Linked DNA regions of Homo sapiens. The protein of the gene in region 7 interacts with the protein of the main gene of each other region in a biochemical or structural test. Each region holds a gene or a part of one and is shown on either strand. Other genes may lie near its edges.

What was found.
Region 1: the proteins of ARHGAP21 (region 7) and ZNF831 interact in a test that uses a peptide from one of them, tested with the Homo sapiens proteins (one large-scale study listed by IntAct).
Region 2: the proteins of ARHGAP21 (region 7) and TMEM178B interact in a test that uses a peptide from one of them, tested with the Homo sapiens proteins (one large-scale study listed by IntAct).
Region 3: the proteins of ARHGAP21 (region 7) and SEMA4F interact in a test that uses a peptide from one of them, tested with the Homo sapiens proteins (one large-scale study listed by IntAct).
Region 4: the proteins of ARHGAP21 (region 7) and F11R interact in a test that uses a peptide from one of them, tested with the Homo sapiens proteins (one large-scale study listed by IntAct).
Region 5: the proteins of ARHGAP21 (region 7) and NRXN3 interact in a test that uses a peptide from one of them, tested with the Homo sapiens proteins (one large-scale study listed by IntAct).
Region 6: the proteins of ARHGAP21 (region 7) and CAPN6 interact in a test that uses a peptide from one of them, tested with the Homo sapiens proteins (one large-scale study listed by IntAct).

The regions. Positions count from the first base shown.
Region 1 is NC_000020.11:59,166,821-59,170,320, forward strand, and holds part of ZNF831 (zinc finger protein 831), read left to right. Parts: intron 1-3,041; exon of another isoform or gene 3,042-3,500.
Region 2 is NC_000007.14:141,434,064-141,437,563, reverse strand, and holds part of TMEM178B (transmembrane protein 178B precursor), read right to left. Parts: intron 1-3,500.
Region 3 is NC_000002.12:74,657,247-74,660,746, forward strand, and holds part of SEMA4F (semaphorin-4F isoform 1 precursor), read left to right. Parts: intron 1-318; coding exon 319-378; intron 379-606; coding exon 607-705; intron 706-3,500. UniProt on the Homo sapiens protein: Probable cell surface receptor that regulates oligodendroglial precursor cell migration. Might also regulate differentiation of oligodendroglial precursor cells. Has growth cone collapse activity against retinal ganglion-cell axons.
Region 4 is NC_000001.11:161,011,153-161,014,652, reverse strand, and holds part of F11R (junctional adhesion molecule A isoform 1 precursor), read left to right. Parts: intron 1-3,500. UniProt on the Homo sapiens protein: Seems to play a role in epithelial tight junction formation. Appears early in primordial forms of cell junctions and recruits PARD3.
Region 5 is NC_000014.9:78,176,873-78,180,372, forward strand, and holds part of NRXN3 (neurexin 3), read left to right. Parts: intron 1-3,500. UniProt on the Homo sapiens protein: Neuronal cell surface protein that may be involved in cell recognition and cell adhesion. May mediate intracellular signaling. Functions as part of a trans-synaptic complex by binding to cerebellins and postsynaptic GRID1.
Region 6 is NC_000023.11:111,253,484-111,256,983, forward strand, and holds part of CAPN6 (calpain-6), read right to left. Parts: intron 921-3,500; coding exon 789-920; intron 1-788. UniProt on the Homo sapiens protein: Microtubule-stabilizing protein that may be involved in the regulation of microtubule dynamics and cytoskeletal organization. May act as a regulator of RAC1 activity through interaction with ARHGEF2 to control lamellipodial formation and cell mobility.
Region 7 is NC_000010.11:24,598,388-24,601,887, forward strand, and holds part of ARHGAP21 (rho GTPase-activating protein 21), read right to left. Parts: intron 2,544-3,500; coding exon 2,259-2,543; intron 1-2,258. UniProt on the Homo sapiens protein: Functions as a GTPase-activating protein (GAP) for RHOA and CDC42. Downstream partner of ARF1 which may control Golgi apparatus structure and function. Also required for CTNNA1 recruitment to adherens junctions.

The DNA.
Region 1 (3,500 bases), on a different chromosome or scaffold from region 7:
ATATTCATTGTTGAAGGGCATCTGGGCTGATGCCAATTTTTGACTATTACAAATAAAGCTTTAGAAACATTCATGTACAAGCTTTTGTGTGAACGTAAGTTTTCATTGTGAAATAAATGCCCAGGAGTGCAGTTGCTGGGTTGAATAATAGTCCCATGTTTGATTTGTTAAGAAATGGCCACCCTTTTTTCCAGAATGGCTGTGCCACTTCACATCCACACCGAAATGGATCCTGGCAACGTGGGCAGTGTTTCCAGATCCTCGCCAGCATTTGCTGTTTCACTATTTTTTATTCTAGCCATTCTGACAGGTGTGAAGTGATATTTTATTGTGGCTTTAATTTATATTTCCCAGGTGGCTAAAGATGTTGAACACCTTTTCGTGTGCTTATCTGCTGGCTGTATACCGTTTTTGGTGATAACTTGCTTCATGTGTTTGCACACTTTCTAATTGGATTGTTGTTGGTTTTTTTTTAACTGTTAAATTTTCATAGTTCTGTATAGATTTTAAATATAAGTCCCTTGTCAGATATGTTGTTTGTGAATACTTTCTCCAGATCTGTAGCTAGTTTTTTATTCTCTTATTATAAGCAGGGGTTTGCACAGAGCAAAAAAAAAAAAATTAACTTCGATGAGGTCCATTTTATTATATTTTCCTTTTATGGCTCATACTTTTTGTTTCAAGTCTAGGAACTCTTTCCCACTTTAGAAGTCCTAAAGATTTTCTCCTGTGCTTTTTTTCCCCTAAGCTTTTACAGTTTTATATTTCACATTTAAGACTGTTTTAAATATTTTGAGTTAATTTCTATATAAGTAAGATGTGAGGTTTAGGTCAAGGTTTTTTTTTTCTTTTTTCTTTTGCCTGCGGAAGTCAATTGTTTCAGCATCATTTGTTGAAACATCTACACTCTCTCTACAGAACTGCTTTCAACCTTTGTCAAAAAATCAGTTGGCTGAGGCAGGAGAATTGCTTGAACCCAGGAGGCAGAGGTTGCACTGAGCTGAGATCGTGCCACTGCACTCCAGCCTGGGTGACAGAGCAAGACTCCATCTCAAAAGAAAAAAAAATCAGTTGGGTATATTTGTGCAGATTGATTTATGTTTTTTTTTTTAATTATTTTGTTCTACTCATGTCTGTGTCTATTCTGACAATACAGTCTTGATTACTTTGGCTATATAATAAGTTATCAAGTTAGGTAGACTGATTCTTTACACTTTATTATCTTTCTTCAAACTTGTTTGAGTTATTCCAGTTCTTTTGCCTTTCTATATAAATTTTAGAATAATCTTGTCTATGCCCACAAAAATATCTTACTAGGGTTTTGATAGGAATTGCATTAAACCTGTATATCAATTTAGGGAGAATTGACATTTTTACTATGTTGAATCTTCCAATGCATGAACACAATATGCCTCTTTATTATTTAGACTTTATTTGAGTTAGTTCATCAGTGTTTTGTAGTTTTCAGTGCGTAAGTCTTGTACATGTTTTATTAGATTTACAACTACATATTTCGTTTTTCATTTAATTTTGGTTTTCAACCATTCATAGCTAGTATATAGAAATGTAATTGACTTTTGTGTGTTGATCTTGTATCCTGTGTCCTTGCTGCACTCACTTATTAGTGCGAGGAGGTTTTTTTTTTTTTTTTTTTGTAGATTCTTTGAGAATTTGTATGTAGACAATAATCTCATCTGCAAGTAGGGATAGTTTTATTTTTTCATTTCCTGCTTGCAAGTCTTTCCTTTCCCTGTATTTTGTATTTCTTTCTTGCTTTATTTTACTGGCTAAAACTTTCAGTCATCTTCTGAATGAGAGTGATGAGAGTGGACATCTTTCTTTTTCCTGATCTTAGGGAGAAAACATTCAGTTTTTCACCGTTAAGTATAATGTAAACTTTGGTGTTTTGTAGATGCTTTTAATCACATTAAGAGATTTCCGTCTATTTCTATTTTCCAACGAGATTTTATTATGAATGGGTGTTGAATTTTGTCAAAAGCGTTTTCTACATCAATTGATATAATTATGTGATTTTTCTTTTTACCCTGTTAATATGGTGGATTATACTGAATGCATTCCTGGAATCCTTGTTCAAGGTGTATAATTTTTTTCTTATCACAGAATTCTATTTGCTGATATTTTGGGAGAGGTTTTGAGTCTGTGTTCATGAGGGATATTCGTCTGTAGTTGTCTTTTCATGCTGTCTTTGTCTAGTTTGGTCGCAGGGTAATACCTAGGTGCTTAAAATTAACTGGGAAGTGTTATTTCCTTTTCTGTTTTCCGGATAAAGTTGCGTCGAATTTGTGTTAATTCTTCTTTTAAAGTTAGAATTCTCCACATCAGGGCCTGGAGACTTCTTAGCAGGGAGCTTCAAAATTGCAAATTCAATCTGATAAATAGTTATAGTGTGATTCTCATGTGATTCAAATGATCTGTTTCCCATTAGGTGGATCATGGTAGTTTGCGCTTTTTGAGGAATTGGTCCACTTCATCTAAGTCATCAAATTTATGTGAGCTGAGTTATTTACGGTATTCCCTTAAGGTCATTTTAATGTCTGCAGGGTCTGTAGTGATAGCCCATTTTCCTTCCTGACATTGATAGTTTGTGTCTTCTCTCATTTGTCCTTTGTCAGTTTTTGTAGAGATTCTAAAGACCAATTTTAGGCTGGGCACAGTGGCTCATGCCTATAATCCCAGCACTTTGGGAGGCTGAGATGGGTGGATCACTTGAGGCCAGGAGTTCGAAACCAGCCTGGCCAACGTGGTGAAATCCTGTCTCTACTAAAAATACAAAAATTAGCCCGGTGTGGTGGTGCGCACCTGTAATCCCAGCATGTTGCAAGCTGAGGCAGGAGGATCAGTTGAGGTCAGGAGTTTGAGACCAGCCTGGCCAACATGATGAAACCCTATCTCTACTAAAAATACAAAAATTAGCCGGGCATGATGGCAGACACCTGTAATCCCAGCTACTCGGGAGGCTGAGGCAGGAGAATGTTTTGAACCCAGGAGGCAGAGGTTGCAGTGAGCCAAGATCATGCCACTTCACTCTAGCCTGGGCAATAGAGCAAGACTCTGTCTCAAAAAAAAAAGGTGAATTTTATTAATCTTGTCCAAGAAAAAGCTCTTTCTTTCATTGATTTTCTCTATTATTTTTCTGTTTTGATTTGACCTATTTCTTCTCCTACCTTTATTATCTCCTTTCTTCCGCTTGCTCTGGATTTATTATGCTTTCCTTTTACTACAGTCAAGTGGGAGTCTAGAGTCTTGATTTGAAACCCTCCCTCTTTTTCTTTTTCTTTTTAAACAATTAATAGCAGTTTATTTTAAAACATTTTTGTGGGTACATAGTAGGTGTATATATTTGTGGGGTACATGAAATGTTTTGATACAGGCATGCAGTGTGAAATCATCACACTGTGGGAAATGCTCCTCTTTTCTAATGTAAACATTTAGTGCTATAAATTTCCCTCCCAGCACTGCTTTAGCTATGTGCCACAAAT
Region 2 (3,500 bases), on a different chromosome or scaffold from region 7:
CTGAGGGCCAGGGTATACCCCAGCCCTGGGGTGGGTGCAGAGAGGGAGTGGCCCTCCAGGAGCAGGAAGGCAACCTGCCCTTCTCAGATAGGAGCACACAATCTTTGCAGAGGGAGGATCCCCTGTGGTGACTCTATCCTTGTGTGCACAAACAGGCCACAGCAGTTTAGATCCTAAGCACAGGGACAGATCATCACAATATCGTGGCCATTTCTTCTATGCCTCCTTTGTGCCAGGCATAGCGCTGCCTAGCTATATATCTATCTCAACCTTCTGAGACAGGTACTATCTTTATTCCTATTTGCTGAAAGGCACACTGCTAGTAAGCGGTAGAACAGAGACTGGAACCCAGACCTGTCTAGCACTCCCAGCTTCCAAACACAGCATCACTCAGCCTCTCCAAGGAGCTGAGAACCACAGAAATGGGCTGCTGGATCTGGGTAGTCAGGCTGCACCTGCCAGGCTCTCCTGGTCTCACTAGGAGGTTGCAGGTGAGGGAAAGCTAACAGCATGGGGGGTCTGGTGTTCTGTTCCTTCAACTCTAAGCTGGCTCCTGGGCTTAGCTTTCCCTGCATGCAGGGCTGCAGGAGGAGAGCCACACTTCCTGCTCTCCTCTAAGCTCCAGAGCAGACCCCTTTCTTGCACTTACTCCATCTCCTCCACCCCCGGGTCAGCCCCGCTTTCTGAGTCAGGCCCTTCTCTGTTCCACGCCTGGCTAACCCATCAGCTCCAGGAGGAAGAGGGTTGTCTGGAAAGGCAGTATTTTTAGCAGAAGGGAGAGGGCAGAGCTGTTGCCATGGCTCAGTTGGCCACTCAGCATCTGGCTTGGCTTCCTCCCCAGCTCCCACCCCTGCCCTCCTGCACGCAGAGGCAGCCAGAGCTGCTCTCAAGCCCCCTACCCTTCCACGTGCCCACCGCACCCCAGCCCCCACCAGCTCCGGGCACACTTTCCTCATCCATCACCCCTTCTCTAGAGCTCAACCTTCTGACCCTCTGCTCATGCCACCCACCCCTCTACCCTTCACCAACACCCACCACAGCTCCCTGGGCCCTCTCTCCACCCATCCACATCTGAGCCTGTGCCCTAAGCCTGCCAGTGGGGCTCCACACAGGAGCAAAGCTATTTATCCTGCCTCTGCCCCAGGGTCTGTGCTTCCCAGGGGGTTGCAGAACAGCCTGGAGGATCCTTGGGCGTCCCTCTCTGTCAAAGGGAAGTGCCTGAAGCAAACCACATCCACACCCCGTGCAAGCACACCAGCTGCTGCAGCCTGCCTGGACAATCTTTTCTCAACCCTGAGAAACAAACACCCCACAGGTCTCTTTGGAGAATACCTCAGAGACCACATACCTCAAAAGGTGTCCAGGTCCCATCCCCTCCATTCCTCTCTCTCACTCCAGCCACCCCATGGGGAACCCCAGCAGAGCAAACAAAAAGACATATGGTGCAGTTTGGCTTAAGACCCCTCTGTAGAGGGATCCAGACCACCCTTCTTGTCCTGACATTGACCATCAGACACTGACAGCCCCCGGCCAGGGAGGAAGTTGGCCGGGGAGTGGGGAGAGACGGGGCACAGGAGGGGAACAGCAGCAGACCCTTCCTTCTGGTGAGGAGGGGCCTACAGAGGAAGGAGGACAGGGCTCCAGTCACAGAGGCAGAGATCTTTGAGAGCCACAGGGCAGGTTCCTGCTCTACTAGGGCCGCCCTTGTCTGCCCTGGCTGACCCGGGATGCCTGTCCCAGCCAGGTAGAAGTGATGCTTACAGTCACTTATGGGAACTGCCCAGGGTGCCTGATTATCATGCAGCACTGCACCCCCTGCTCATATTACCATATGTGTCAGATGGAACTGCTGAAACCATCGTTTGATCACAATAGGAGCTTGTGAGGCCAGCGGCCTGCGTGGGCAGCCACAGCCAGTCAGAGAAGGGAAGGTGCACTCCTGCCCCTTCTTATTGAATCATCTGTGCCGTCCTCTCCCTCCATCTCCCCAAATGCTGTCTCCATGGCCACCAGCCCTATACCTTAGTCCCTGCTTTCCCCACCACCACAAGAGACTCTGGAGTGACCGAGGCCTGAGCTGCCTTCTCAGTAGACAATGGTCCCCACTTGACATGTGATCCCATCTGGATCATCTCCTGGAAATGGGATACTCTACTACCAATGCTTCTACTCCCCATCATCTTCAAGGGCCAAAAGGTGGTGGGAAGAGGAAAAGAGAGAACAGCTTATTTTCAATGAAAAGAAGGTTTCCCTGTAAGGGGCTTATACTTCCTTAAACAGGATGTATAGTTTTGGATTTTGCGTTTAAGTATTTAATCCATTTTGAGTTTATTTTTTTACTTGGTGAGAGACAGGGGCCTAGTTTCATTCCTCTGCATATGAGTATCCAGTCTTTCCATTTACCGGAGCACCATTTACTGAAGAGGATGTCCTTCCCCCAGTGTATGTTGCTGCCTTTGTTGAAAATCAGTTGGCTATAAATATGTGGATTTCTGGGTTCTCTATTCTGTTTCATTGATTCATGTGTTTTTATACCAAAATCATGAGAAGTGTCTTTCAATGAATGAATAAAGAAAATGTGTTACATATACACAATGGAATACTATTCTGCCATGAAAGGGATGAAATGTTGTCATTTGCAGCAACCTGGATGGAACTGGAGGTCATTATGTCAAGTGAAATAAGCCAGGCCACAGAAAGACAAATATTGCATGTTCTCACTCATATGTGAGACCTAAAAATGTTGATCTAATCAAAGTACAGTAACGGTTACCAGAGGCTGGGACGGGTGTGGATGAAGAAAGATTGGTTAATGGGCACAAACATACAGTTAGAAGAAATAAGTTCTAATGTTTGATAGCAGAGTAGGGTAACTACAGTTAGCAAAAATGTATTGTGTACTTCAAAATAGCTGGAAAAGAGGGTTTGGAATGTTTCCATCACCAAGAAATGATAAATGCTCAAGGTGATGGATATTCTCAATATCCCGACTTGATCATTATACATTCTATGCATTTATCAGAATATCACACGTATCCCAAAAATGTACAAATATCTGAAACTGATAAAAATAAACAAACAGGAGGTATAAACGGTCAGCACATTCATCTTCTGCACCCTTCTCTTTTCGATGTGTGGAGGTTTCTTTCTAGGAGAAATCCTATCCCATTCAGCAGCACTAGACAGGACAACTTTGCAGAGTCCCACCTTGCTGGAGGCCCAGCTGTCACCTGGCTTTGCTCATTGGAAGGCCTGTACTGTTCCCCAGGCTCTGCAGACGCCAGGGAGCAAAGGTTCTGCCTGGGGGAATTAAGTGGACAATGGGTCAATAAGAGGTGTCCACCTTGGCCACGGATGGGAAAGTGGGCTGGGCAGAAAAACAAAATGGAAATGCAAATTAGAAAAAGAGGGAAGGTGAGAGTTGTTGGAGAATGAGAACAAAGTGTTTTACTTAGAAGAAAACAGAGGAAAAGGCAGAACAGCAGCAAAATGAAGACAAT
Region 3 (3,500 bases), on a different chromosome or scaffold from region 7:
AAGGGATGCTCAGTGTATACTGTGTATTGTGGTACACAATTATGTACTGAAAGAAACCTTTCTTGAAACAATATCTACCTCTTATATGTGATACATTTTGATATATTCTATTTCATTAAAAATAATGTTGGTCATGATTTCAGAATTGATTTTATTACTCATTAATGGGTGGGGACCTCCATTTGAAAAACAATGCTCTAGGGGGACTTTTGAAGTTCCCAAATTGATGGAGGTTATAGAACAGTTTAATCTCCTCTAACATCGAGGGAGTTTGATGTTAGGGGAATCTGGGTGAAATGATCACTTCTCCTTTCTCAGATTGACTGGATGGTTCCTGAGGCTCACAGACAGAACTGTAGGAAGAAAGGCAAGAAAGAGGTAGGTGTAAATCTGAGCCCTGTCTTGAGTGTCAGTTGAGACCTTGGCCCAGCCCTGACTCTCAGTCCCCTGTAATGCTTCCATACCAATGGGCCCAGGCAGAGACTCTAACACCATGCCATCACCCATCATCTCTGATCCCAAAGCTGCATCTAACTGTCCTGACGTTACCTTACCCTTCCTCGTACCTGCTGCTTCTGATTCTTTCTAACCGTCTCTGACCCCCAGGACGAATGTCACAATTTTGTCCAGATTCTCGCCATTGCCAATGCCTCTCACCTCCTCACTTGTGGCACCTTCGCTTTTGATCCGAAGTGCGGGGTTATTGTGAGTGACGGTGTGGGAGGAGAGGGAGAGGGTGCCTGCACCAGTGTGAGTTACTTGGGGTGGTGGTGGGAGGATGGGAAGGGTTTTCTGTGAGCGACCATGATGGGGGCATGGTCAAGGCAACCATTGTGCATGATAAGCATTGGGTGTAGGGGCTGTCCTCATGGGATGAGGGTATGTGTAAGCCACTGAGGGAGGGAAAGGGAGGTTGTCTGGAGAGGGTAAGATATACAAAGTGTGAAGAGAGACATAGTGGGATAGTTAAGGAAGTTAGGGATGCTGGTTGGGCTGGGGAAACAACAAATCCAGGGAGAGACTTCAGAAACCAGAAACTCATGTTTCCCTTGCCCTGTGTATGCTTTGTCCAGGCAGCCTGTGTCCATTTCTTAATTAGTACAGCCCATTGCCTGTTTCTTCCTTTCACAGCATGTGACTGTCTCTTACCACCTTCTCCTACTTCCACTGCCAACCTCATTGTATATGGGCTGTGAGTCTCTCCTCTCATGGCTTCTGATGTCACTTCCACTAATGTAATATCTGCTGGCCCCATATTCTGGATCTTGCCTTCAGGGCGGGCACTCTGTCAATCATGTTTTCTTATAGATCCTGTTTATTGCTGCTGAAGGCCTGGACATCACCAGCCTCAAACACAGGCAGGCTTGGGACATGTGTATCCTAATCACATCTAGGCTAGTCATGATCTCTGGGACTGATGACTGTTTCTGAATTCTCAGCTTTTCCCATCTGTTACACAGTAGTCAGCACTGGTCTTTTGGCAGCTCACATTTGTGACAAGCCCCTGGCGTGAGTCAGAAGCCTCACATATCCTTTATATCCAGTGGCTTCTCTTTCTGCTCTGTAGAGCAATAGGAGGGAGTATAACTGCTCCCTTTTTTGACCTCATCCTTAACTGTAGATCTTGTCTTGACTCTTCTGCAGTCCTCAGTAATCCCTGCCACCTGGATCAAGTCAGTGTGTATCTCTAAACCCCTCTTTGTTACATACCACCCTCATATCTCTGGCTTAGGATGCTAATCATAATCATATGCATGATTGCTCCAGTTAGTCCCCCTGGGCTGCCTTGGGGTGGGTTGGACTTATGTTAAGTCCTTTTCATAATGCAGGTGATACACACTCCCTACCAGCATCTGGATAGCTCCCTCATTCTGGAAAGGTTCGCAGTTCAGGGTGTTGGTGAAAATCTCTGTATTCCCTCAGGTAACATTGAGGTCTAATTTCCCTACAGTTCTCCTTAAGTTTATAAGGTAGCAATGGTACTGCCATTGCCATATTTGTCCTTTTCCATTCTGCCAGGCTTGGGGATCCCATGGGTATGAATCCCAGAGCCATGGCTTATAGACAGTGTGATTGTTCTAAGTTAGTCTCCTAGGGCCTTTAATTCTTCCTTGTTTCTCTGAGGTGGGACTCTAGTGGTTGTTACATAAGGTATCTAGACAGAAAATGTTCTTTCTGGACATACCTGTCAGGATTGGTGTGACTTGGATGCCTATCTCTTCTTGAGGAACATCAGCAATGAAGAGTGAAGCCAGGGGTCTGTGTCCTGAGCTCCCAAGAATTCAGCTCTTTTCCTGAACTCTCCTGTCTAGCAGGCTTATGAAATGAGGGCCCATCCTTTGGTCAAGGCTTGTTTGAAGGAGAATATAGAGACTAGCCGCAAGAGGTCAACTCTGGTAACCCTTTGAGCCACATCCTGTCTGCTCTGTAGACGTTTTGAAAGTTCTCTTCTGCCTTAACCTGTCTTATCCTACTACCCAGCAGCCCCAGTCTGCTTGACCAAGTTCTTCCTTTATCCTCACTGCTGAACCTCTCATGTCCTAGACTGATGACTTTGAGACTGTATATAAACAATTATCTGAGAGCTTTGTTCCAGACATAGCAACTTGATCAAAGTTGATTGTGGAGAAATGAAGGTTCTTACATAAAGGAAATTCCAGCATTGGATCTAAGGGCTCCCACTGTGGAGTGCTGTCCTTCAGTGATAGCTCATTGGACATTGGAGGAAAATATCCTAATTTGTTTTGTTGAGGGACCTCTAGCAGTTAACAGAGAAAAATGTTAGACTTCTAACAACAACAACAACAAACAGCAACAATGACAACCATTCAGTTGAGTGTCTGCTCTGATGAAGACTTGGTATTAGGTACTTTACATTAAGGATTAAGTTTAATTCTTATCACCACATCATGATATTTAGGTATTATTTCCATTTTACAAGTAATGAAACTGAAGTTCAGAGAAATTAAGTATTGTCTCTAAGACTGAATAGCTAGCAGAGGCAGAACCAAAATTTAAACCTGTGTTTGTCTCTGGCTCTGTTCCACTATCCTGTCCCTCTAGTCTAGCCTGCAGCCCAGAAGACCTTATCTGTCTTCAATTTCTTGTGGCATTTGATGTGTTTCATGTACTAGGAACCATCTTTCTTTTCTTTGCTTTTTTTCTTAGCCACCTGGGAAAGGTCCTTCCTATGCCTTAAACTCCTCTTGGCCAAGGCCAAAGGACCAGTTCCAACCCATAGCTCAGAGAGAGCCTTCCTGTCCAGCTCCAGCTTTCAGCTTCAGGGACTTTGCTTTACCACAGCTGATTCTCAGAGACTATGCTGCTGACTAACACAATGATGATACAATGAAGAATCTCAACATTCAGATAGATAATATAGTGGAGTGGTCATGTCTCTTTCAGACCCGAGTTAAATGTCATTTTGACCATGCAATAATCATAACCTATCTAGTTAATAGGAGGCTCACCTCTTCAAAGGTTAGAAACCTGGATGATAT
Region 4 (3,500 bases), on a different chromosome or scaffold from region 7:
GCAGCCTTGACCTCCTGGGTTCAAGCAATCCTCCAGTCTTAGCCTCCTGAATAGCTGAGGCTATAGGCAAGTGTGAGTGGTGAGCCATACCTGGCTAATTTTTTATTTTTTTAGTACAGACAGGGTCTCATCTGTTGTACAGGCTGGTCTTGAATTCTTGGCTTTAAGGGATCCTTTTGCCTTGGCCTTTCAAAATGCTGAATGACAGGTATGAGTCACTACACCTGGCCCATATTGGTTTCTAGGGATTGTGGCCTTGGCTGTTAGGATACATCCCACCCCCCTCCAAGTCAGCTGAGTTCAATTTGCACTTGTTCTGTGGACACATAAATGGGCAACACACGTTTCCACCACACCCAAAAATAGATTTAAATGCCATGCACATTTTATGTGATAATAATGAGACTTGTTTATCACATCTGTTAGGTTTGACTAGAGACCCTGGAGATCTCTAAACTCAAACCAGTTTCTGTTTCAGAGATTCAGGAAAGACCTGGATGACCTTGCGTCCAACATAATTGAGGATGAGGTTTCACTATTGTGTGACGGTTGTGGAAAGCAGTATGAGTGAACACATACTGTGAGAGTGGATACACACTAGGGTTTTCCTGGCATTGAGAACCCAGAGTTCATCTGCCTGGACTCCCTGATAAGCAGGGTTTCTGTCTAAAGTCCGGCTGCGTCATTTGTTTCACAATGTAGGGGCGGAACAGGAGGAAGCAGCTGGCTGGCAGGAAGTGGGTGCTGGGCCCCTGAAGTAAGTCCTGCGCTGGAAGGCTCGACCTTCCCTTGCACTGGGAAGATGGGGTGGCGGGGGAGCTGAGCAGGTAGAACCGGAAATTCTGCAGAGAGGGCGGGAGGGAGCCAGGGAGTGAAAGCGAGCCTGTCTTACCCTGCCATTACCACTTTCTGCCATCCTCAGAGGACCCGAGCCAGCTGATCGACATCACTGAAAGTGCAGCCAAGGATGGCTATTTAGACATAGCCCAGCCTGTTGTTGGCCTCACAGAGCCTTCCTCTTGCTCACACATTTCTAAACTGTTCTACCCCAAACCCCGGAAAGGCCCTTCCCTGTGGAACTTCCCTGGCCCATGGAGCCTCTTGATCTTTACGAGGAGGCCAACCCTTATGGGAGTTACTTCAATCTCTACAGGGTGAGTGGTGGGGAGGAAGGGGAAAACCAGAGTGGAAGCTCTAGGTCCAGGTTCTAATTGTATTGCAGTGTGAAATTCACTTGTTAATCCAACAAACATTGGTGTTTACTATGTTCTGAGCACTGTGCTAGAGATTAGGGGGAAAACATGAAGTTAAACTGGGTATGCTGTAGCTGGTGGGGTGAGGAGGCCCTGACTCATCCTTCCTATTGCAGGGCTCCAGCTCCCTGGCAACTGGGGGGTCTTGTGAGTCTCATATGCCCAGAGGGAAGTTTGGATGAATTCTTAGAGAAAACCAGAGAGAGACTGGTTGACTGTTTTCCCTCCTTTTCCCCCTCCTCCTCTTTCTTCTTTTTTTTTTTTTTCCCTAAATGAACAACAGACACCAGGGCCTACTTGAGTTTAGAGGATGGGAGGAGGGTGAGGATAGAAAAACTACCTTTTGGGTACTTTGCTTATTAGCAGGGTAATGAAATAATCTTTACACCAAACCCCGACGACATGTAATTCATCTATATAACAAACCTGCATATGTACCCCTGAGCCTAAAATTAAAGTTAAAAATAAATAAATCGGCCGGGTGCAGTGGCTTACGCCTATAATCCCAGCACTTTGGGAGGCTGAGGCGGGTGGATCACCTGAGGTCAGGAGTTCAAGACCAGCCTGGCCAACATGGTGAAACCCTGTTTCTACCAAAAATACAAAAATTAGCCGGGCATGGTGGTGGGTGCCTATAATTCTAGCTACTTGGGAGGCTGAGGCAGGAGAATTGCTTGAACCCAGAAGGCAGAGATTCCAGTGAGCTGAGATCATGCCATTGCTTTCCACCCTGGGTGACGAGAGCAAAAACTCTGTCTCAAAATAAATAAATAAATAAATAAATAAATAAATAAATAAAATTAATTAATTCAAACGACACAAAAGCAACTCAAGGAAAATTCTTTTTTTCTTTTATTTTTATAGAGATCAGAGCCTCTCTCTTTTTAAAATTTGTTATATTCTTTTTTATGTTGTATTTCTTCTTTTATGTTTTGTTATTGATATCCCTGAGGCATAGAGATGGGATCTTTCTATGTTGCCCAGGCTGGTCTTGAACTCCTGGGCTCAAGTGATTCTCCCATCTTGGCCTTCCAAAATGCTGCGATTATAAGCCTAAGCTGCTGCACTGCACCTGGCCAGAAAATTCTAATAATTAACAGGATATCTAGAAAAAACTAAAGGTTTCTTAGCAAAGTAGTAGAAGGAAGTAGGTCCTTTTCTGTTATGGGTCTGACCTGACCCTTCACGTACAAGGGATGGTTGTTGGTGGGTTCTGTTAAGAGTCTGGAGGCCTCTGCCTTCTGTGACCATCTTCTCACCCCAGCAGTGCTTTGGTGCAGTTCATCGAGCACCTCCTCTGTGCAAAGTGTAGTGCTGGGAGCTGGGGAAGGATACAAGCAGAACTCAAGAAACTGCAGACACGTATTGACTAGGTAGAGTACAGAGCAGCGTGTGCCAGGGGCTGTCAACAAAGTACAAAATGTTTTAGGAGCATAGACGAGAAGAGAGTAACTTTTTAAAGATATAAGCTTTTTGTTTTATTAAAAAAAGTGATACATGCTCCATGTAGAAAAATAGGAAAATGCAAAGGACTATGGAGAAAATAAAATCACATGTAATTCTATTATCTAGAGATAAACACTTATTACTGGTGTTTCATTCTAGTCTTTATGAATTAATGTGTGAGATACGTCTATATTTCCTACAAAATATACTTTTTTTTTTTTTTTGAGGTGGAATCTCGCTCTGTCACCCAGGTTGGAGTGCAGTGGCACAATCTCAGCTCACTGCAACCTCCACTTCCTGGGCTCCAGCAATTCTCTGCCTCAGCCTCCCAAGTAGCTGGGATTACAGGTGCCCACCACTACGCCTGGCTAATTTTTTTGTATTTTTAGTAGAGATGGGGTTTCACCATCTTGGCCAGGCTGGTCCTGAACTCCTGACCACCTGTCTCGGCCTCTCAGTGTTGAGATTACAGGTGTGAGCCACCGCGCCTGGCCCAAAATATACTTTAAGGTCCTTTCTACATTATTCCTAAAGTATGGCTATATCATAATTTACTTATTCACCTTTTGTTGGGCATTTAGATTTCTTTTTTTTCTTTGTTATACTAAATAACATTAAATTGGCTGGGCATGGTGGTTCATGCCTGTAATCCCAGCACTTTGGGAGGCTGGGGCGGACGGATCACTTGAGGCCAGGAGTTTGAGACCAGCCTGGCCAATGTGGTGAAACCCCGTGTCTATCAAAAGTACAAAAATTAGCTGGGTATGGTGGTGTGTGCCTGTAATCCCAGCTACTGGAGAG
Region 5 (3,500 bases), on a different chromosome or scaffold from region 7:
GGTGTGTCTCTAAGGAAGGCACACTTGCAGAGCTAGAGGTCAGGGTTTCATGGCTCGAAGAAGACTGGTGGGCTATATTCCAGCTGAGTGGTGGTTAAGGTTGTCTTCTGACCTTCCTGGGGGAGGAGAAACTGGAATGGAGGAGGACCCCCATTCCAGTGGGGTGCTCAAGGTTCTCAATCCCATATAGCCCTGCCCGTCAAGGGTACTTTCAGGTCCAGCAGAGGCTCCATTCAGAGAGCCAAGCAGCTGGTATCTGGATGCTGACGACTCTGGGAGCCTGTCACTTCTCCTAGACTGGCCTAGCCTTCTTTCTCACGAAGGGAAGCATGAATCCAGACATTGGCCCCAGTGTGCTTCATTTGTGTTTCCAGAGGCTGGTTGGGGGGCATGATGTCATACAATATGGGTGAAGGCCTTCTACCAGTGTCTCTGTTCCACTCTAGGGTTGGTCTTGACCTTGAATGGGAGAAGGATTAGACATTCTAGACAAGTATGAATGTGTGTTTTTTTTTTCAGGGGTGGGGTGGGGCCAGAGAAAATTGGATTCTGAGAAGCAAGGAAGTCTTACCTTTAGCCAAGACCTTGAAGCAGAGCATGAATGCATTTCTGCATGACCTTGAGATGGTGTAGCCAGACGCCCTGGTGTGGGGAGACAGTGTCTGTTTAGGCCTTTGTCCTAGTGTAATTAGTAACTCTCAAAAGTGTCCCGGTTTGGATGATAAAATATATGGCCATCCTTCTTTAAGACGACATCACACACTTTCTCTTAAAGGAATAGAGAGAGGAAGGGGGCATACTAGAGAGAGAAATCCAATTTTAGGGCAGGAAGGTGACTGAGAGTACAGCCTTTCCCCAGCTCTACTTTCACTTACCCCCACTTTCTGAAGGATAAAAACCTGGATCTTCTGAGTATTCCTACTACCAACATGACTACTACTTCTCTCTCAACTACTCTTACTCCCATCCAAGAACTAACCAGGCCAGACCCTGCTTAGCTTCCGAGATCAGATGAGATCGGGCATGTTCAGGGTGGTATGGCTGTAAACCCAACTACTTTTACTAAAGCTTCGATTGGCCAATATTTGAGACCTGACTATGGGCCAGATACTATGCTAAGCACTTGACATGCATTATCTCACATAATCCTCCAACAATCCTGTGAGGTGGGTACTGTTATCATCTCTGTCTTACAAATGAAGTAACTGAAGCCTAAGGAGGTTAAGTAACATGTCCAAGGCCACTCAGGTAGGAAGTGATGACATCATGATTCAAACCCAAAGGGCCTGGCTCTGCTCTGAAGCCTCTGGTCTTAACCACTGTTTCGTACCACCTCCATGGGCCTGTCCTCTGGTTCCGCAAGTCTGGAAACTTGATTCTAAGAGCTGGCCCATTTGCCAGGCAGTCAGCTGACTCACAGCTCTGGGACTTGCTGAAGGTGCTGCTGTCAGTTAGAGGCATTTCAGGCTTAGGAGGAGGGGGCTGCTGGTTGTAGCACTGCTGCTTAGGAGTAATGCTGCTGGTTGTCTTTTGCATGGCACTAAGGAAACTCTGTTTCCCAAGGTGTCCCCGTTACCTTCTTCCTTGCTTCATGCACCTTGTCTGAGGAGGGAGTTGAGGTGATTTGGGGTGGTGATAGGTGGGCAGAAGGTAGAGAACCTGAAGCCTATTTGTCTCTGCTTTGCTGTGTCGCCCTAAACCTGCATGGGACAGCCACACTCCCCATGGCCCTTGCAGCAGGGACTGGCCCTCAGCGTGAGATTTCAGTGAAAGGACAATTATCCAGCACCTGCTTTGAGCAGGGCATCATGCTCTGCTATTTTTCACTTAGGTGGGTAGTGTCCTCATTTATCTGTTGAGGAAACTGGTGATCAGAGGGGTTAAATCGCTTTTTTAGGATTACACAGTGAGATCCTGGGTCCACACTTGGGTCTGAATCCAGGGACTCTGCACCACCCTCCATCCTGAATCATGGAGAAGAGGAGCTGGGAATTGGATCATCTAAAACTGGGGGTAAAAGAGGAAATACTCTAGACAGAGGTCTTCCAATCAGCTCCTGAGGTCTGGATAGGAACTCTGGGGATCATCATCCTTATCAGCCACCTCTAGGCCTGCCTCTACCCCACACCCACAGGGGAAGACACCTGCTGACCCCTGAGCTGGAGGGGTGCTGGTTCTGGCCTGGAGAGAAGGAGGAGATGGGATCATGCACAGCCTCACTGGTGGAGGCGGGATGTTCAGAAGGAGTTACCTCCTTCCCCCGTGGAGCAGGAACATGTGCACTGACAACATCCCCCTACATCTGTGTCACAGGATAAAGGGTGGGAAGGGATGCCAGGTCTGCTGCCTAGATACAGGCAGGGAGGATGCACAGAGGGAATGAGCGGGATCCCCCAGGCTGGAGGACTCCAGGGAGGAAGAAGGAACTTTTTCTTGGTGGAGAGGCAGGGAATAGGAGAAGAACAGTTTTCTGACTGAGAGGATGGTCTGCAGCCCCTAGGCTGAGCTGCATCAGCTTCATTGCAGTCCCATTGAAGACTGTGTTTATTTTTTCCAATAATGTGTTAATTAAACATCGATTTCTGGGTGGAGGAAAGGGAATTGGATTGCCAGAGCTAAATGGAGTGTGGCAAATGGGGAGCGGTTGAGAGGGGCCCCAAGCTGGAGTCAGCATTCTCCAGTGGCACCCCAGGAGGGTCGGAAGGGAACTAGGGCTGCCTCTTCCCCTGGCTCCAAATTTGGAATTGTCAACTCTCCCAGAGCCTTCAGGAGGCACCTTTCCTACTTCTTGGGTGCCAGGGCAGGTGGAGAGGGCTCTTTGCTGAACCCCAGTTCAAGGAGGGAGGAACAATTATTCTCCACCTTCCTCAGCATCTTTGGTTTATAGAGACTGTGTACCCAGTCTCGTGTTCAGCATGTGACATATATTTGTTCTTTGTTTTTTTTTTTTTGTTTGTTTCTGTTTTTTTGTTTTTTTTTTTTTCTTGTTTTAGACAGAATCCTGCTCTTGTTACCCAGGTTGGAGTGCAGTGGCTTGATCTTGGCTCACTGCAATCTTTGCCTCCTGGGTTCAAGGGATTCTCCTGCCTCAGCCTCCCAAGAAGCTGGGATTACAGGCATGTGCCACGACATCCAGCTAATTTTTTTGCATTTTTAGTAGAGACAGGGGTTCACCATGTTGGCCAGGTTGGTCTCGAACTCCTGACCTAAGGTGATCCACCTACCTCGGCCTCCCAAAGTTCTGGGATTATAGGCATGAGCCACTGCACCTGGCTTGGTTTTTAAAATAAACATGGGGGAGGGCGCTTTTATATTCCTACTTTGGAGATGTGGAAACTAAGGCTTAGAGAAGTAACAAGTTCAAGGTCAAAGAGTTGGCAAGGTTTCACAAGAAAAGGAGTCCTAGCGGAGTTGAAAATATCTGAGGTTGGAAGAACAGCCACCTAGAGTCCCAAGCCCCTTTAAAGGGAAAAAAAGAAAAAAAATGAAGCATCCAGTAG
Region 6 (3,500 bases), on a different chromosome or scaffold from region 7:
ATGCTTTCCACAAATAATCTATAAACTAGATGTTGAGAAGCGGACTATATAAACATATTCATGATTGCATGTTTAAAATGCAAGGCATTCTAAAGAGCAAAACCAATCAAAATCAAGGCCCATTGTAGTTTGCTTTTTAAATATCCATTCTAGAGATTTTATATCAATTATATTAAATATGGATTTCATTTGCATTTTGAATAAAATCATGTTTAGGAATTTTTTTTGTATAACAGCTACACATTAATATTCTAAAATTATTTTTTGAGGAAAATGTTTTAACTTTGTCCCAAGTCAAGTTAACACTTCATTGCCTTGACCTCTACCTGAATGCTAAAGGAATTTTTGTACTATTAATAATTTATTAGAACTTTTCAAGTCCTACTTCTGTATTTCTCACCTTTTTTGTTATTAATATGTATTATTGACTTCCTGGCTTCTACTGACTTTATACCCCAATAGGTACAGATAACATAATATGCAGAGATACTGAGTCAATGCACGGCAAATGATAACCAAAGATCAGTGAGCATATATGACAAAGCAAGTAGAGTAAAATGTTAATGGTAGAATCTAGGTGGGTATATGAGTGTTCACTATAAAATTATTTCAACTTTTCTGTGTTTGCAAAACTTCTTATAATGAAATGGAGGGAAGTCGCCTAGTTAATATCTCTGCTTTCAAGAAATACAACAATCTAAGGAAGTTATGCGCTGATTTTTTTCCTAAAGTTATTAAAGAAGACAAGAAAGTGGAAACTGAATGAGGTCCCACAGGAGGGATAATACCTTTGTCCAATGAGACTCCTGAACAGCCAAACAGGAAAATGCAGAAACCATTGGCTTGTGCCCCAGTCTCCCTTGGGTCAGCTGGTGGTTGCTAATGTTGCCCACAATCAGATGGGGGTCATCACAGATGTCCTATGAATACAATAATTGGTTATATGAGAGTCTGGGAAGAGTTTCTCAAGAGTCACTGTGAGCTGAACTAGGCAGGACAGCCTTCATAGAGGAGATAAGGTTAGGGTTGAAAAATAAGTAGGATTTCCATAGATGGGATGAAGGGAAGGCTGAGGGGATTATAAGGAAAACCAAAAAACAGTTGATCATCTAGCCCCATGTTTGGAAGTGGCAGGAGAAATGAAAGGAGAGGGTGTCATGAGATTGGGTGCCATGCGGTGGTGAGGGCTCTTAGACATAGCTATCATTGGGGTTTGGGAGAGTTTTCACCACAGCAGTGAACTTTCCAAAAAAATAATAACTAGGAATTAGTACATTACATTCTGATCCTATTTTGCCAGGATGAGATTTTCTGAAGCACCTGTGCTTGGAAGGGAGATTGTATTAAAGAGACAAGGTCTAATGAAGGTTAACATTAATTCATCTCCTTCTCTAGGAAAACCAGTTAGGAGACCTTATAGGAAGCCCTTTTCTAACATAAAGCAAAAGCAACAGTGGTCTCCATAGCAACCAGATTTTTCTACATTTGTGGATGAATATAGATGACAGCAGCATTAATAGCAAGTGGTAATAAACCACTCACAGGAACACTTCAACCGACACTCTTCCCAGTGAAGGTCCTGAGGGGATCTGGGCAGAGTGGGGGCAGTATTTGTTTGGAATGTATGTGTGTATCTTCCCCCCAACATATTAACTGTGCCTTTCCCACTGGGAGTAGGAAAATGATACCTAAATGATACAATTATAACACAAAGCGATAGGGCACAGTAGAGTCATTTTCAAAGCATAATTCATGTCTAAAGGAAGAATCCCCATAATTCTCCTGATCACAGTCAGAATAGGATTCATAGTGTTGTTAACACTGGAGTTGACTAGAATTAGGCAGTTGGACAAGAGAGGGGTACGGTGGCATAACAGGTAGAGAGAAAGGCATGGGCAAAGGCATTGTGGCATACATGACACTACATAGTTGAAGACATAATTGGGTGACTCAGAGTATCAGCATTTGAAGAGTTCAAAGGCAGGAAATACCAATGCATTCTTGACTAGATGGAGAAAGCTTCACGAGGAGGCCATTGGCCGGTACCTTGACATTCTGCTTACGCAGCAGAAATAAATCCTTGTCTCAAATGGAATCTAGACATATATCCTTTTAAAAAGTATTAGAGACAGCTATATTTTTCTGGTCCTCAAACCTCTTTTTTTAATGGCCATAATTCTCCTTGACGAAGGGTCTGGTCTACAGAATGAAACATTCCATATATTCTTTAAAAGCCAAAATAACTCTGGAAAGAAATAGGCAGGCATTCTGGGCAAAGACAAGTCCAAGCTGGAGATTAACTGGGCATCCCTCTGCCAAAAGGAGATGGCTAGATAGGTTGTCAGCTTTGGATTCTCAGGTCTTTTTTTTTAGATGCATGCCTGGTAGTTCACAACTACTTTTTGTTTTAGGAGAATTTTCTATCTTAAAAAATATTTTTTATGGGCTGCAAACTGCCTTTGTTTTCACTTGTTGAACATAGAGCAGGTATGTTGGGTAAGTCAAACCCTGATGTTCTTTTTCTTCTCATTTTTTTGGCCTTTTCTAAAATGAAACTAAGCACAGTTTTTCCTCCCCAGGTCAGGTGTTTTCATTTTATTTTGAGCAAGATGTCAAAGTATAAAATAATTTCTGGCCAGGTGTGGTGGCTCTCGCCTGTAATCCCAGCACTTTGGGAGGCCGAGGCAGGTGGATCACCTGAGGTCAGAAGTTCAAGACCAGCCTGGTCAACATGGTGAAACCCCATCTCTTCTAAATATACAAAAATTAGCCAGGCGTGGTGGCAGGCGCCTGTAATCTCAGCTACTCAGGAGGCTGAGGCAGGAGAATCGCTTGAACCCGGGAGGCAGAGGTTGCAGTGAGCCGAGATCACACCATTGCGCTCCAGCCTGGGCAACAAGAGAGAAACTTCGTTCCAAAAAAAAAATAATGATTTATTTGACCTAGATAATACATATCATAGTTTCCTAACATGGAAAAACAATAAAGTGAACACTGATATATGAAAAAGTGTGCTTTTAGATTAATAAGGCAAATTATTTGCTAATTTTATGTAGAGTTATTAGTGGTTGGAGATACATTATGGTGTCTTGAATTTCCATAAAATTTTCATTTCACAGTAGGTATCTAGGCTTAGCCAACACTTTTGGCATGTCAACTTCTATTGAAGACATAAAGGGTCACATAAGTGAGCAAAAAGACATATAAACAATTCAAATTGAGGAATGGGGTAATTATTCTCTTCTTGACCCAAGATGGATATGATTATTATATATTATATGTGTCTATGTATATACATGTATGTACATATAATATATATATTAAAAGCTGTGTGAAATTCATGAGAGAATGTAAATTTGGGACCCCCCCCCCCACAACATTCCATTTCCTCTTATAAACTGGCCCATTCTCCAGTTATACTTTACCCCTTTTCATACGTGATGGCTATTTAACAATAGATTTAAAACATGACAAGTTAACAGTCATAGAATGTCAAAACT
Region 7 (3,500 bases):
TTCAAAAAGAAAAACAAATAATATAGGTGGATAAAAGATGAAAACAGACTGCCAGAATTTGTTAGTGACTGACTAATTTTTAAGGATAGTGAAACCAAGGATCAACTAGTATCACAAGCGGCAGTTACATTATCAGAAGATAAGAGAAAAGCTCAAAATTTGCATGATTTTTTTTTAACCTCTGTGAGTTACCTTGTATGAAATGCTATATGGTAAACCCAGAGTTGACCATAAAGTGATCCTTTTTTTCCTATTCATTCCAATTATACATTGATATTGACTGGGGTTCTCAATTTTTTTTAACTTGCCTCATTTTGATGATAGTGAATGATGATACAGTTTACAAAGAATACAGTCTTTAAATACGGGAGTAAGTTATCTTGAATTTAAATAGACTCTTCCAACTTATCAGCTGAGAGATCATATGATTAAGATCTAGAATAAGACTGCCTGGATTTAAATCCTACCCCTGATGCTTAAGTCACTGTGTGACCTTAGGGAAATTATTTAGCCTCTCTTTGCCACTGTTTCCTTATTTTTAGAATGGTGGTGATGATAATAGGACACATTCATATGGTTGCTGAGATTAATGCATGTAGTATGTTTAAAATAGTATCTGCCATATGGTATGTGCTCAGTGAATTATTGTTTTCTCATCTATAAAACTGGGGAAAATACTTGTGTACCTGTGTCTTAAGATTAGATGGTGATGCTAATAGCTCACATTAAGTAAATGTTTATTACTTGGCAGGCATTCTTCACATGCATTATCTCATTCAATCCTCCAAACAGCCACTATGTGTCACAGAACAAGTCATCTGAAGGAGTTTTAACAATGACAGTCTACTGCCTGAGAGAATGCCTGACACATAGTAGGTGCCTGTTACACAGAACTCCTCTGAACTATTACTTAAAGCTGAAATCCACATCTAAGTTCTTATTCTCCCTGTTTATTTTGCAAAAATTCAGGTCTGATGCCCTCTGTATAGCGGGTAGTTGTACAACATAGGTTGCACTGATAAAGATCTGGTGTTATTTTTAACCACAAACAAGGCAGAGTGTAAACTACCAAAGGAAAAAAAGCACACTTTTCCTATGGTGTAACGTTTTAATACTTTGAATTGGATATAATGGAAATGACTAAATTAGAACATAATTTGCATAAGTTTACATTTAATGTAGGCATTCCTGAGTATTAAAAGAGAACTTCGTGCCCCTTTTTTGGTTATAATAAATAGGCATGAAAAGTGAGAACACAGTGAAGAAAAAACTGTGTTAATGATAAGAAAATACTTGAGCAACTGCTACTTCATCATTGCTAGATTTGCTTGATAAAGTTTATAGTTATACATACTTTAAAAACTATCTTTACTATTGAAATTCCTACTGTGAAAATACCTTGATGATCATAAGCTGTAAATTCTCAAATCCCTAAACACTGTTCTGCATGAAAAAGAAATGCTGGGCCGGGCGCGGTGGCTCACGCCTGTAATGCCAGCACTTTGGGAGGCCGAGGCGGGCAGATCACAAGGTCAGGAGATAGAGACCATCCTGGCTAACACGGTGAAACCCCATCACTACTAAAAATACAAAAAATTAGCCGGGCATGGTGACGGCTGCCTGTCATCCCAGCTACAGGGGAAGCTAAGGCAGGAGAATGGTGTGAACCCGGGAGGCAGGGCTTGCAGTGAGCCAAGATCGCGCCACTGCACTCCAGCCTGGGCAACAGAGCAGGACTTCGTTTCAAAAAAAAAAAAAAAAAAGCTGACTTATGATTTTTGAAAATGCAAGTTTTCTTAGAAACTAACTATTGTGTGACAGTAGGCTATTCCATATTCTTGACTGTATAGTTCTCTTAACAAAAATCATCAGTATCACTCTGCATTTATATAGTTATTTATACTGGTAAGTATTTTTACTGTAACTTAAGCCCTACAACAATCCTGTCTTTGAAAGATGGAAATGGATCTGGAATAACTTGGTCACAAACAACCAGGACTAGGAATGTAGTTCATTGCTTCTGAGAAGGTATACAGCATATATAAATAACCTATTTTTCTAGTTCAGTGATGGTGATTTTCCAATGTGTGAAAATAATATAAAACAGGTATGTTTGAGTTTTCCTTTTCATCAACTGTTTTACATGAAAATAGCACATTATAATTTTTTTATAAAAATGATATATCATATTCCTTAGATCTTTGTAAGAAAGTGTTGTGAAAGGGTCAGATTTCTCCAGCATTCCTTTGAACACCCACCTCTTCGTTTAGGTTGCTGCTCTCCTGGATCGTCTTGATCCAAGCTAGCATATCATCTCTGTCTTCAGCCTGAAACAGGCATTCACAGTCGGACGTGGTGAGTCGAAACACATTTTTCCTCTTGGTCTCACTGTAAGAGATGTCTATCAAGCAAGCATTAACACTGATGGGCTGCTCTTCCTCAGACGGAGTCGTCTGCTCTCTTTTATCTTTGTACAGGTAAAGTGAATGACCCCGAAGGACAACATACATCTGTTTCCATGGCCGAATACTTCCACCAACTCGCTAGAAAACATGCGACAGTTCTTTAATAGTCAATATTTGGCTAAATCTTTGTGACAGGATAAGCACATTAAGCAACACCCTTCCTCTGCATTTACATATAACTAGTGTAGCAGGTGGCAGATTTAGCTCACTACATTATTTGTGAGGAGAGGAAGGATAAAAATTGTGGAGCATAAACTGAGTTAGGCAGTGTATTCATATCAAAGTCAAGGACTGTGAAATCCCAACTTTAGTTGGGAAGGCAATATGAACAAAGCTAATCAAATAAAATAAATGTAGCAAAACATATCAAAAACAGTAACGGAATAGAAAATTTAAAAATCGGTCCAAAAAACCTGTTGAGTGAAAGACTTACGTCTTAGAGCACACAAATGACAGATACTGCAGGAGTTCTCCAACAATTGTATACATAACTAATTAACAGAGTTCATCAACTTTATATGGCTAAGCAACTCTATCCACATCCAAAGTGAGCTTTCTTAAAATTTTTAAACTCTTCTGACAGCATTAAAATGTTCTTATATATAAGCTGTCCAAATATTATAGAAAATTTTTATGGCAAAGTCTTTTTCTGTTGAAATCTACTGGATGCATATATTGATATTTTTATATTTGTTTAACTTAATATTTTTAAAATAAAATGAAACAAAGTTATAAAGGTAATTTAAAATAAACTAAGAAAAGAGACATAAAAATTTAAAACTGATTTGCCACTTCCTAAAGGACAACGGAATAACCCATTGCTAATAAACTAATAAGAAAAGCAGAGTTCCTTTTTAAATACTTAGATTTCCTTTTTACATTGCCAAAACGTAAGACAATATATTCTACATGTAGCTGATACACAGGACAAAAAGTACCAAATTAATGCAATAATTAGAATTTTTTTAAGGAATACTTTTTTTAATGTAGAAAAATCTATTTATAAATGGTTTTTTTTTTCACTCTTTAATCTGG